Linked DNA regions of Homo sapiens: all the other regions are reported to be linked to region 4. The links are microRNA targets in miRTarBase. Many come from high-throughput screens and were not tested one by one. Region 4 holds a microRNA gene; each other region holds the end of a gene's coding sequence.

Region 1 (3,183 bases), not on the chromosome of region 4:
ATAAAAATAATTTAAAAAAGAAAAAAAAATATGAAAGAAACAGCTCAATAAAGTTGAGAAAGTATGTTTACAGATGCATGTAGAAAGTTATTTAATAAAAATATTTCACCATTTAAACTTGGATTCCCCAGAGTGTCATTCAAAATACTGAAATGGAAAGATCAACAAAATTAATGAATAAAGAAAGTTTATTGGAGATTATTAAAGAAAAATGATAAAATAAGGCAAGTCCTAGATCAGATTTAAATACAATATTTAGAAAGATGGCTATATAATTTTAGCTAGGAAAATCAGTAAAAGGGAATATCCTTAAAAGTGGGAGGGGTTCATATAACCTTTTAAAATAGCAAGTTGAGGTGTAAAAGCATCACCAACAATAGTATGTACCTTAATCTTTACACAATTGGACAGTGAGGAGCAAAGTGGGAGATTCTACCAATGCCACTTACAGAACAGATTTTCAAGTTAATAAGTCATAAAATCCTAATGTAGTCATAGGCTAGGATGGTGACGACAATCTGCAATTACTGGTCAGAGTGAAGCGAAGTGACAGGTCAGATTTTTCAGCATATCAAGTTACTACTTAGGTATGCTTACAAAACTTTGTTAAATAAAGTTGGGTATTGTTAGTATACCCTTTACTAAATGGTGAGGATAGCTGCCAAAATAATCAAAAGGCTAATTATGTGTTAACTCTCATTTATTTTGGATTGCAGACATACTCTTGCCCTTTATCTATCTACACAATTCCTTATTACCAGCAGCTGGAATCCAGTTGTGCAATTATGGCAACTGGACAGACCTGAGCCGTCAGTTATGAGATAGATGACCTTTTAATTGTACTAGCAAACAATTTATAGACTGGAAGATTGTTTTTCGGGAATACCAGTTTAACTGAGACTTTAATTATGGTCCAAGAGCTTTTATGAGAAATTCAATCAAAAATTTTGCTTTAGAAAAATTTTATAGGTATATGTTACTAATACTGAGAATGGTTGAATTAAAAGAAATTGAGACTGAACAGTACATTTCCACTGGAAACATAAAGCTCTGAATGCTGTGACTGAGTGAACAAAGGAATAGTTCTAAATTTTCTTTTGCAACATACATAACAAAAAGATTTCAAACTGAAAGACAACAGGTTTAACTGAATGACAGATTTAACTACATAGTTTTCATTCTATAAATAAATAACTTGTGAAATATCCCTGAAGTCAGTGGACAAATGGGGAAACCATTATTTTTGTCATATTCTACAATTCTGAGAACTAGGATTAGAAATTCTAGGACTTTAAATCTTTGTGCTACAGAGAACAATATTATCCACTAAAATCAGGAAGTGGCTTCCTGAAGGGTATTCATTCTCTGAGGTCATACATTTTTTTTTTCTTTATTCAAAACACTTAGTAAAGGAAAAGGACACAAGGAAATTCTGATTAAAGTCTTCTCCTGCTCTGTTTGCAATTATACATGCTTTCAAAGTCATTTGAAAGTAAGACCATTTCCTTTGGCAGGTATCTTGTATAAAGTAACTTTACAACATATGTTTCTTGAACAGAAACTTTACACCACTGTCATTATGTTACCTATAGAGACAAAACTACTAACACAAGTAATATGGGCTTACAATTATAACACAAACCTGTGAGAGGGCATGATAAAATTAAATTTTGATTGCCTTCTTTTATTATTATCACTACTACTGTCTGCTCACAAATTCTGTGGCCAGAGTCCATTTCAAATCCTTCTAAGAGTCCACTTCATGAGTTAAACATATACATATAGAACAAAGCAGGTATACTGTAATTTTTAAAAGTAAATCTGTTTTACATAGTACAGCTGGAGGCAGTTTAATATAATCAAAAGTTATAGCTCTAAAAAATATGATAGTAGAATATTAAACCTCAGGTTACGTTAGGTTTGTTAACTCTTGATTTGCTTTGAGTAATTTTTTTCTTCAAAAGCCACATTCCAAGAAGATGCCTTAAGTATCAATGAGCTATATTTGAAGTACATCAACTCTGTTTAAAGCTGTCCAACAATAAGGACACAAGCAGTAAAATATCTGAAGCATGAAACATGTAATGTTGATGACTAATGTTCTAGATCATCAGGAATAAGATTAACGAAGAGCAAAGTAAATCTAAAACAAGGAAAGGGAAGATACATTTATTAAAAATAAAAATAGTACACAATCTCTGATAACAAAAAAAGCATTTAGGGTCAAAAGACATCCAACATACATTGTAACAATGCACACATATTAATTAAAAAAAAGACCCATGAAATAATTTTTAAAAAACTTTCAAAAGGAAAAAACTATTTTGGCTTCCTTCTGCTGAAATTCGCCTATAAACATACCACGCCAGCTAGACCAGCATTCCCTTTCACGTGGTCTGTACAACATAGTACTGCACAATGTGAGCAATTACTTTGATGAACACATTGTTTTTGAATAAAATTGTTGGTTCTGTATGGATGATCCAGACATAAATCCATGGTTCCATTTCACAAAAATATTCATAGGCTGGAAGAGCAGTGACAACCATTTTCCAAAATCTTCAGTTTTAACAAAAGGCGCAGAATAAACTACTAAATCTAGATGTTTTCACATTATTTTGCATGAGTGTCAAATACTATGTAAAAATTAACGTAAAATCTTAAGTTGGCCAAAACTAGTGTCTCTAAAGATCAAAATTCTTCACTCTTTTAGCATGGCTGATAAATCTTTTCTGCCTTTGTCACTAATGCTTGTCAAACCAAAGAACTTTGCAAAAGAATATGCACTGCTGAAGGAAGACAGTACCAAAAATACCATATTGAACTTCGGTCTTAAGACACACACAGTTCCTGTTGGATACTGGACTGTGAAAGTTTATTATCTTCAGTCTTTTCATGTCCTGGAGCATGGCAAGTAGTCTTCCGCTTAAATAACCGAAGACTCAATCGAAGTAATTCATTGTCTACCATTGGAGCACTCGTGTAAGCTTGTTTTATGGTGCCCTATTTGAAGAAAACAAAAACAAACTTTAAAAAAGATGTACATTATTAGTAGGAAAGATGGGCAGGTTAACCTCTACCCAAAATATCAAAGTTATAAGAGTATTTCATTTTGGATATTAAATTAGCTTTATTGGATTTCAAAGCAAAATTAGAAAATGTGTTTGGGCTCAATGAATCTTT
Region 2 (3,183 bases), not on the chromosome of region 4:
TCTGCTATCTTCATACTGGTTCCATGTCTTCAAATAAACGTGCATTACTTTATAACCCTAGAAACCGAACTTCTGAGGTAGAAGGGGCTCCGAAGCTGTGTGCAAGGCATGCTGCACGTGAGGGGTACCCACCACACGTCAGGAAACGCCCCTGGGAAACTGTCAACTAACATGCCCGCTCCCCTCAGTTTGGCCAGAAGCAAACCGCAGAGAACAGTGCCAAGTTTAGATGACTGGAATTTGTATTTCTGTTTCTGAATAAACATTTTGTAAACAAAATTATTAAACACTTGGAAAATTTCTTCCCAATTAAAGTCAATTTGTACCTACAGACTTAAAAATACCACATACATGGCCAGGTGCGGTGGCTCACGCCTATATTCCCAGCACTTTGGGAGGCCGAGGCAGGTGGATCACCTGAGGTTGGGAGTTCGAGACCAGTCTCATCAACATGGTGAAACCCCATCTCTACTAAAAATATAAAAATTAGCCGGGCGTGGTGGCACATGCCTGTAATCCCAGCTACTTGGGAGGCTGAGGCAGGAGAATCGCTTGAACCTGGGAGGCAGAGGTTGCAGTGAGCCAAGGTCACGCCATTGCACTCCAGCCTGGGCAACAAAAGTTAAATCCTGTCAAAAAACCAAGAATGCCAGGCGCGGTGGCTCACGCCTGTAATCCTAGCATTTTGGGAGGCTGAGGCAGGTGAATCATGAGGTCAGGAGTTCGAGACCATCCTGGCAACACGGTGAAACCCTGTCTCTACTAAAAATACACCAAATTAGCTGGGCGTAGTGGTGGGTGCCTGTAATCCCAGCTACTTGGGAGGCTGAAGCAGGAGAATCGCTTGAACCTGGGAGGCAGAGGTTGCGGTGAGCCAAGATCGCGCCACTGCACTCCAGCCTGGGAGACAGAGCGAGACTCCATCAAAAAAAAAGAAAAAAAAAAAACAAAAAAAAACAAAGCCACACACACGGACTAAACTTGCAGAGAAATGATGCTTGGAAAACAGCTGATTACTCAGCCACTGCGCACCACGGTGGAAACAAGCAGGCTTTGGTGTACGGTGTCACAGGTGAACACGGCGAGTCCAGGGAATGAGACTCCGGCTACACTTCTAAGTCACAGCAGCTGTTCTCTCCTGTCTGTGGTCCTTCCACAGACCCAGTCTGTTTTCCGACCAAGCACCCCTAAAGCGCTCAAAAGTCACATTCTCTGAGCAGTTTATAATTTTGAAGGCTACCAAAACAGGCACTACAACTACTACTAATGCTGAACAAATGATGTTTCTAAAAGATAAAAATGCTATACAGAAACAAAATAGTGCTTTAGATTTATTCCTATAAAACACATACCCTTTAAACTAGGGTCCATGAGGATTAACTTTCGACATCGGGGGCTGTCAGAGGTCGTGGACACCCCCAACTCCAGCCGGGCGCTGAACAATGTAAAAAGAATTTGCTCTGCAACCCTGTGGGGGGGGGAAATAAAAGTAACCCAGCGTCCATTTAATGCAGCCAAGTGCAATTCCTTTCCCCACCTTAGAAAGCACCACCAGATAATACAGCAGAACTGATCCTGCAGAAAGGTTGCTGGAGGGTCAGGCCGTGGTCGTAACTAACACCACATTCCCATTTTGTTTGCTGGATAATTTTTTAATAAAGTGAGGTTTACATCACTGATATTTAAGAATGGCTATATGCACAAAAGAAAACACACCTTTTTGGTTAAGGGGTGAGGAAGTTAGAGAAAGCATGAGAAACAGGGAGCATGTGGGGTGAGGCGGGGCAGGAGTGGAAGGCTGCAGGCACCCCCAGCTCACTCCCTGCCTGCGGCAGCACCCATGACACTACAGATCAAGGGGTTATGAATGACATGGATTCAGATTTCTTTCATTCTAGACTTCAACCTAGCCTTAACCTTTTGTTTCAGCACCAGTCTAACAGAGCAGCGCAGGCGTTTCTCATCCAGCAGCAATGCTACTTCCTCACCCAGGGCAGGTGCATGGGCTGACCCTGATGGGAGCCTCCAGGAACACTGCCTTGAGAAGGCACCACCGAGGGGCTATGAGGTCCCTGAAGACCAACTGGTGCCTGTGATCTACAAACAGACAAATATTTGACCTTTGTCTTCAATGACATTTACATATAAATAGACATAAATAAAATCCTCCATAATTTACTCTTAGGTCTAGGAAGATGTGGCTGTGTGCGGCTCCTGATTTTCACCCAGGTCTCACTGCAGCGCAGGACATAATGAAGAAGTATCACACACACATTTAAAGTAAAACATGATACATTCACACTGTTGACTGAGACTGTAGTGATGCTCACTGCAAAAAACAAAACAAAACAAAAAACCCTTATTTAAACCTTAAAAAAATGAAACACACCAACTGCAATTGTTTAGGCTATAAAAGTTCTAATGTAGCAGCAAAGGATGTTTATAGAAAAAATATACTTTTAAGAAAATAGCTGAAAAAATCTAAAGAGATAAGGTATAAAAAGTTTAAAAAATATATCTTAAGACAAAATACTGCCCAAAACATGTAAAACTGAATTGTAAAAATTCACCTATCTAAAGGTAAAAGGAGGTTGATGCAGCTGCGGCTCACCGTCCTCTACAGTGGGGGACACAAAGAGACACGAGGGGCCCAGGGCTGTGGGGACGTCAGAAGACAAGAAGCCTTCCAGAACAGCCTCTGCCTGGCGCTCCACAGGGGGGAGGTGAGTGGGACGGGCCTAGGGCTGCAGCCCCACTGGTAATGGGCTGTTCTGGGATTTCTCAGAATCAGCAGACAGGGCAGCAAGGCTGGGCCGCTGGCGGCAGGCGCACCCTCCGTGGGAGCCAGTGCTCACGTGTCAATGCGTCAGAGGCGGCTGTGAGCACTCAGGGCTCCTGCTCAGGTCTCCACCAGGATCTCCACCACGTGGTCCAGCTCGCCCAGGTCGGACTTGCAGCTGGAGCTAGGGCCTGGGGTGGCCGGAGCCAAGCCCTCGAGCCCTTCGCAGGGGCCCGGCCTGGCACCCCCCATCATGCCTGTCAGTACTGTGTCCAGGTCGTAGTAGGGGCTGTCCACGTCTGAGAACAGCTCTTCCATGCAGCTGGGGTTTTTAGTCTCCAGCGTTTCAAATATCTGATCAAGTGACTTGTGAAAGCTTCCTCTGTTTTCTCGAGGGCCATCCA
Region 3 (3,172 bases), not on the chromosome of region 4:
CTGTGGGAGGCGATGCACTGTCCTGCTTAGCCCAGTTCCACCTAGTGGCACACTCTTTCCTTTCCTCCTATCTCATTCATTTGCTGACAATAAACATGTATGACTTGTAATTTTATAAGCAATTCTAATGCATTTTTAAAAACTAATGTAAATTTTACCCCTCTCATTCTAGGATATGGTGGTACCAGGAGACGATAAAGTAGAAAGTTGGAGTCAAACACTGGATGCAGAAATTTTGGATTTTTCATCACTTTCTCTTTAGAAAAAAAGTACTACCTGTTAACAATTGGGAAAAGGGGATATTCAAAAGTTCTGTGGTGTTATGTCCAGTGTAGCTTTTTGTATTCTATTATTTGAGGCTAAAAGTTGATGTGTGACAAAATACTTATGTGTTGTATGTCAGTGTAACATGCAGATGTATATTGCAGTTTTTGAAAGTGATCATTACTGTGGAATGCTAAAAATACATTAATTTCTAAAACCTGTGATGCCCTAAGAAGCATTAAGAATGAAGGTGTTGTACTAATAGAAACTAAGTACAGAAAATTTCAGTTTTAGGTGGTTGTAGCTGATGAGTTATTACCTCATAGAGACTATAATATTCTATTTGGTATTATATTATTTGATGTTTGCTGTTCTTCAAACATTTAAATCAAGCTTTGGACTAATTATGCTAATTTGTGAGTTCTGATCACTTTTGAGCTCTGAAGCTTTGAATCATTCAGTGGTGGAGATGGCCTTCTGGTAACTGAATATTACCTTCTGTAGGAAAAGGTAGAAAATAAGCATCTAGAAGGTTGTTGTGAATGACTCTGTGCTGGCAAAAATGCTTGAAACCTCTATATTTCTTTCGTTCATAAGAGGTAAAGGTCAAATTTTTCAACAAAAGTCTTTTAATAACAAAAGCATGCAGTTCTCTGTGAAATCTCAAATATTGTTGTAATAGTCTGTTTCAATCTTAAAAAGAATCAATAAAAACAAACAAGGGGTTTAGTCTCATTCTTTCTATTAGCCTAGGCGCAAATAAATGTTACTTTTTGTTTTTTTAAACCCTTTTTCCCAAAGGGGAAAGTTCATGCAGAAGTTCTGTCTCCCTAAACAGTAATTTTATGTGGTAGTCGTACCTTAGTCTTTTGGTAAATGTTTTCAAAAAGTAATTTACAAATGGTGTGGAAGCCTCTGCCAAAAAATAGCGTTTGAAAAAAATAATTAAATCTCCAAGCCTCCCAACCCATCAGAGATTGCATGGTTACACTTAGTTAAGCTTCATAACCTCAAAGCCCCAGTTTTATATCTTATGTGTTTAATGATTTTTGCCATTTAAAACTGCAGTTACTTTTCACCAACCAATAAGAACCAATTTAAAACAAACCCTTATTAAGACTATTGCATAATAAAACTATCCTCTTTTCATCAGTAAAACAGTAGAAATTTTAACTGATAGAAGAAACACAGCTTTACTTTATGTATATCCCACTAAATCCTTACCCCATTTCTCCTTAGTAGAAGGATATGGAATAAAAGAGAATGTAGTTTGTTGCTTTTTTTTTTTTTTTGAGACAGAGTCTCTCGTTCTGTCACCAGGCTGGAGTGCAGTGGCATGATCTCGGCTCACTGCAACCTCCTCCTCCTGGGTTCAAGCAATTCTCCTGCCTCAGCCTCCTGAGTAGTTGGGATTACAGGCTCCTGTCACCAAGCCCAGCTAAGTTTTTGTATTTTTAGTAGAGATGGGGTTTCACTGTGTTGGCCAGGCTGGTCTCGAACTCCTGACCTCAGGTGTTCCACCTGCCTCAGCCTCCCAAAGTGCTGGGATTACACACGTGAGCCACCGCGCCCGGCTTACTCAGATTGTTTTTGAACATAGTACTGCAGATCATTGGGATTGTAAGAAAATAATGAGTTAATGTAAAGAGAGTTGACTGTTCTTCCTGTAGGCGATAGCTTTAAAAAAAAAGAGTTGACTTGGTGGCTTTTAGATTACTCTGGGGAGCCCTAGTGGTGTTCTTATGAGGTTCTTTAGAGGGTCCCTGGAGGGAAGGGAGGAAAAGAGGCAGAGTATAGGTTTCAAGCCCCACCTGAGTGTTCCTCTTTTATCTGTTGTGTATTTGTACTTCCTTGTCATTTAAGAACTTTTTTTTTTTTTTTTTTTTTTTGGTAGAGATGGTGTTTCACTATGTTGCTCAGGCTAGTTTCGAACTCCTGGCCTCAAACAGTCCTCCCACCATGGCCTCCCCAAGTGCTGGGATTACAGGCATGAACCACTACTCCCGGCCCTTTGTTGTCTATGGAAAAGGTTCACATGTATCACTTCCCCAAATGTAAAACTTAGAATAATAAGATAGTACAGTCTAAGGCAGGAGGATTGCTTAAGTCCAGGAGTTCGAGACAAGCCTGGGCAACATAGCAAGATTTCATCTCTACAGATTATTATTTTAATTAGCTGGGCATGGTGGTATGCACCTGTAGTCCTGGCTACTCCAGAGGCTAAGGTGGGAGGATCACTTGAGCTCGGGAGATTAAGGCTGCAGTGAGCTGTGATTTTGCCATTGCATTCCAGCCTGGGCAACAGGGTGAGACCTTGTCTCTTAAAAAAATAAGGTGAGAGCATTGATTGAGAAGCAGTGGGATCCTGAAAAGTGGAATGGGGACATAAGAAAGGATCCTGATGAAGCCAGTGAAATGGAACCCCTAAATTCTGCGTAGTATTTCTTGCCGGTAGAAGCAGCCCTTCTACTTCTGTCTGAGAAGGTTAATCCTACTTTGCCTGAAGGATCTGTAATGGTCTCTTCAGAGGTGTTCGTTACCAGGCATCACTCATCTGCCTCAGGGTCTGCCCTTGCTACCTGCTTTGCTCCTAGATGTACAGCTAGACTCACGTTCCAGTAGGCACCAAAGAGTGAGGTACAAATTATGATCCATGAGGAGGTACCCTGCACACCAAAAGGACTCCATGATTTTCCCAGTCTATACAGATAGAAATCTGGGGAATATGTGTGGGAATGGATCTTAGAGTGTAGGATATGGTGGTAGGACTGTAAAGTTCAGTCAGGACAACTTTATTGATATTGGCCCACTCAGCAGAGATTCTGGATTCAATATTTGAGAGGTTAGAAAGGACTCTTAACAGTTTAGTTGGTTTGCTGAACATGGACTCGAAGATGGCCTACACTAA
Region 4 (3,183 bases):
ACGGCTGTGTGTTCACGCTGCTCTCTCTACCCGCTCTTTCAGTCCCCCCATGACCAGTAGTGCACACTTGGGAGACAGCAGTTTGGGAACCCAGTCTGTGGAGGGGACCAGGCCTTCACTAGCCAGCACGGACGGGGGCAGCGCCTGGAACCTCAGCCCACTTAGCTGGGAGCTCCCAGGCCACAGAGCAGCTCAACAGCAGCTTCAAGCTTGTCTTTGTTTTCAGCAGTTGGGAGCCTTAGCCTTTAAAAATGTCTATTGTCAACCTCCAGGACATTCAGATACCATCTCCAATGCAAAGTCTGTCTAAGTAGAAATCAACAAATGCTTAACTTCAGGGTTGCAGCTGAACCCAGGCCCAACCCATTCAACCCTTTCTTCAAGTGAACCCTGCAGAGCCTAGAGGCATGGCAGGGAATACACCTTTAGACCTTACTGGTCTAAACATAAAACCACACCTAGTCAGAATTGGAAGGAGCTCAAAGGTCCTTCATTTTTCACAAGGCTAGAAAACTGAGTCCTGAGAAATGCTATGACTTGCCCCAAACTGCCCAGCTTGCCACCTGCTGAGCCAAGACAGAGCCAAGGCCTCCTGTCCCCAGCCTGGGCTCACCTGGTGATCAACCCCATCACTCACAGTGAGGAAACACGGCCACAAAAGGTTAAGTGAGTTGTTGGTTAGGAGGATATTGAAGAAACATCTGAAGCTCATTATTATTACTTGAAAGACATGAAAACCTAGTGTCCACGTTGGCCACAGACATTCTAAGGGCACACTCAGGTCCCTTTTGACCCTGGGGAGGCTCCAGAGGAAAGGCCTGAGCTTCTTTCAGCTTCTGGCTCTACCACTCACTGCTGTGGCCTCTTTTTCATGTGACTTATTCTTTTGGGGTCTTGGTTTTTTAAATCTCTATAATGGAGTGAATAATACCTGTGTCACAGGATTTTTGTGCAGATTTTACGTCATTCGTTCATTTATTTAATTCCTCATTCAGCAAACGTGCCTTAAGATGTCAGTGACATGCCAGATGCTCATAAGGTCCCTGCCTTCTTAGAACCGATGTTTGTTCTAGTTGGGGAAACAAATGGTGCACAAGTCAACAAATAAGAGAAGCACCAATTGCACTGAGTGTTGTGAAGGCAATAAGCCAGTGAGCCGAGAGAGGCCACTTTTGTTTTTTATAGGGTGGTCATTAGTGAAGCAGGAAGTGCCTGGTACATGGCAGCTCTAGTCAGAGTCATTTCCACTGAGCTTCCTACTGGGCTGTCTGTGAACTTCAAGCAGAAGGCTTCATTCCTGGTCAACCACAGCCCCCGCAGCCCCGTGTGGCTCAGGGAGTTAGCTGCCATGCTGGATGTTGTTGAACGTGCTGCACGATCTTACAGGAAGATGGTAAACACCTAGGTCACATACATTGCAGAAGTTACCCCTTCATAGATGGTAAACCCTTCTTAGTTACCCCATTAGATTGCAAAAGCCTAATGTCACATACACTGTAGAAGTTACCCCTCTGGACTGGGTGCGGTGGCTCATGCCTGTAATCCTAGCACTTTGGGAGGCCGAGGCAGGCAGATCACCTGAGGTCGGGAGTTCAAGACCATCCTGACCAACATGGAGAAACCCCGTCTCTACTAAAAATACAAAAAAAAACTAGCCGGGCATGGTGGCACATGCCTGTAATCCCAGCTACTAGGGAGGCCGAGGCAGGACAATTGCTTGAACCCGGGAGGCGGAGGTTGCAGTGAGCCGAGATCGCGCCATTGCACTCCAGCCTGGGCAACAAGAGTGAAACTCCATCTTAAAAAAAAAAAAAAAAAAAAAAAGGAAGTTACCTCTCTGTCCACCTTATCATAACCATAAACCCACTCCAGGGCCAATCTTCTCCCCTCCAGTTGAGCCTGACTCTGAGACAGAGAAAGAAGGCAGTTCTTCAGCACCTGCCTTCTCTTACTGAAACAGCTTTGTTCTTTAAAAATGTTGATGAAGATGAGCTCAGTGCCTTTAAGCCATTTGTCAGCACTTGTGTCTGGTTTTCATGCAGGGAGGCTTATTTCTATTATTAAGAGTCAGTTGCCAAGTGAGAAGTATCCATTTGGGTGCATAAGAGAAATGGGCTTGTAAGAGAAATGGGCTCTGTAATCACATCTAAAGACTAGACTTCGCTATGACCAGGCCATAGTAAACATCATAGTATGTCTAGTCTTTAGGTTTGATTACAGAACATTATAAGAGCATCCCTTATACTTGCATGTCATTTTAATGTCAGTAATAATAGCCAACATTCATTAAGTACTTACTCTGTGGTGGGTACTATACCAAGCCCTTCACGTGGCTTATCTCATCCGATTGTCAGTACAACTCTGTGAAGTAGGAAGGATGGTTACATTCCAAGCCTCAGAGTATAGTAAACCTTAAGAGCCTGATCTGAGCAAGGATGTGAGACTAGTCCAAGGTCACTCAGCTAATAAGGACTGGCCTTTTAGCTCTTGAAGGCTGGGACCCCATGTGTCCTAGTGGCTGTATTTTTAGTCCTGTGCTTACTATACACTAGGCCCTCAGTAAGTATTTACTGAGTGAATGAATGGGAAAAGATGGGACTGAAACTCAAATTATCTGCCTGCCTTTGGAGTTGCTTTTTGTAGTTGTTTCAAAGATGAAATGAGTAACTATATGTAAATTCTTTGAATATGCCTGCCATATAATAGGTAATCAATTGTATTAGCTATAAATGCTAGGTATAATCTCAGAATTTATTATTTTTATGGAGAACTTCTATGGAAATAATGATCAGCTTGAAGAATAACTTCATAATAAAATCTACACGTCTTCTCTTGACAGATAAAGTTTATACTATTTTATACCATTTTTGTGTACTATCATATGCTATATACTGGATGTTCCTGAGATTTTGTTTGCAACATTTGAAAGCCATAGTTACTACCAGCCAAAGAGTGTACTTTCCGATTAGAGGAAAGATCTCTGTTGCTGAGAGATGTCCTGTGCCTTTGTGGAGGGTGAGATGAGTTATTGTTTCAACATCAACTTGAGGCATTTTCACTTCTGGTTGTACCAGGTGGTGGGAAGGATAGTCATGGGGGTGCCAGGTATTTTTTCCAGATCCTCTTTTGCAGGATTTAAGGGCAGTCTTTGACTCATTACTCCTTCTAGCGGAATAGTCATCA

Evidence for each region. Region 4 holds the annotated microRNA hsa-miR-4744 (UCUAAAGACUAGACUUCGCUAUG, at 2,146-2,168, shown strand). A microRNA usually pairs through its seed, bases 2 to 8, with sites in the 3' UTR of a target mRNA and lowers its output. Matches are read on the target gene's strand: a 7mer-m8 pairs with bases 2 to 8, a 7mer-A1 pairs with bases 2 to 7 and ends in A, and an 8mer does both.
Region 1: the mRNA of ZC3H13 is a reported target of hsa-miR-4744. Seed matches in the 3' UTR shown: 8mer at 2,684-2,691.
Region 2: the mRNA of CDCA4 is a reported target of hsa-miR-4744. Seed matches in the 3' UTR shown: 7mer-A1 at 2,574-2,580 and 8mer at 2,481-2,488.
Region 3: the mRNA of SARAF is a reported target of hsa-miR-4744. Seed matches in the 3' UTR shown: 8mer at 256-263.

Annotation. Positions count from the first base shown.
Region 1 is chr13:45,954,295-45,957,477 of GRCh38, forward strand. ZC3H13 (zinc finger CCCH-type containing 13) reads right to left here. Exons shown (of 19, transcript NM_001330564.2): 19 at 171-3,003. The coding sequence ends at 2,833. Among named protein-coding and RNA genes, the nearest start is that of ZC3H13, 97 kb to the right of the region's middle.
Region 2 is chr14:105,008,305-105,011,487 of GRCh38, forward strand. CDCA4 (cell division cycle associated 4) reads right to left here. Exons shown (of 2, transcript NM_017955.4): 2 at 1,269-3,183. The coding sequence ends at 2,900. Among named protein-coding and RNA genes, the nearest start is that of CDCA4, 11 kb to the right of the region's middle.
Region 3 is chr8:30,060,914-30,064,085 of GRCh38, reverse strand. It overlaps SARAF (store-operated calcium entry associated regulatory factor), which reads left to right. Exons shown (of 6, transcript NM_016127.6): 6 at 173-1,083. The coding sequence ends at 198. Among named protein-coding and RNA genes, the nearest start is that of SARAF, 21 kb to the left of the region's middle.
Region 4 is chr18:49,048,722-49,051,904 of GRCh38, reverse strand. MIR4744 (microRNA 4744) reads left to right here and starts at 2,137; the gene lies at 2,137-2,218. All of the region lies in intron 17 of DYM (dymeclin), which reads left to right.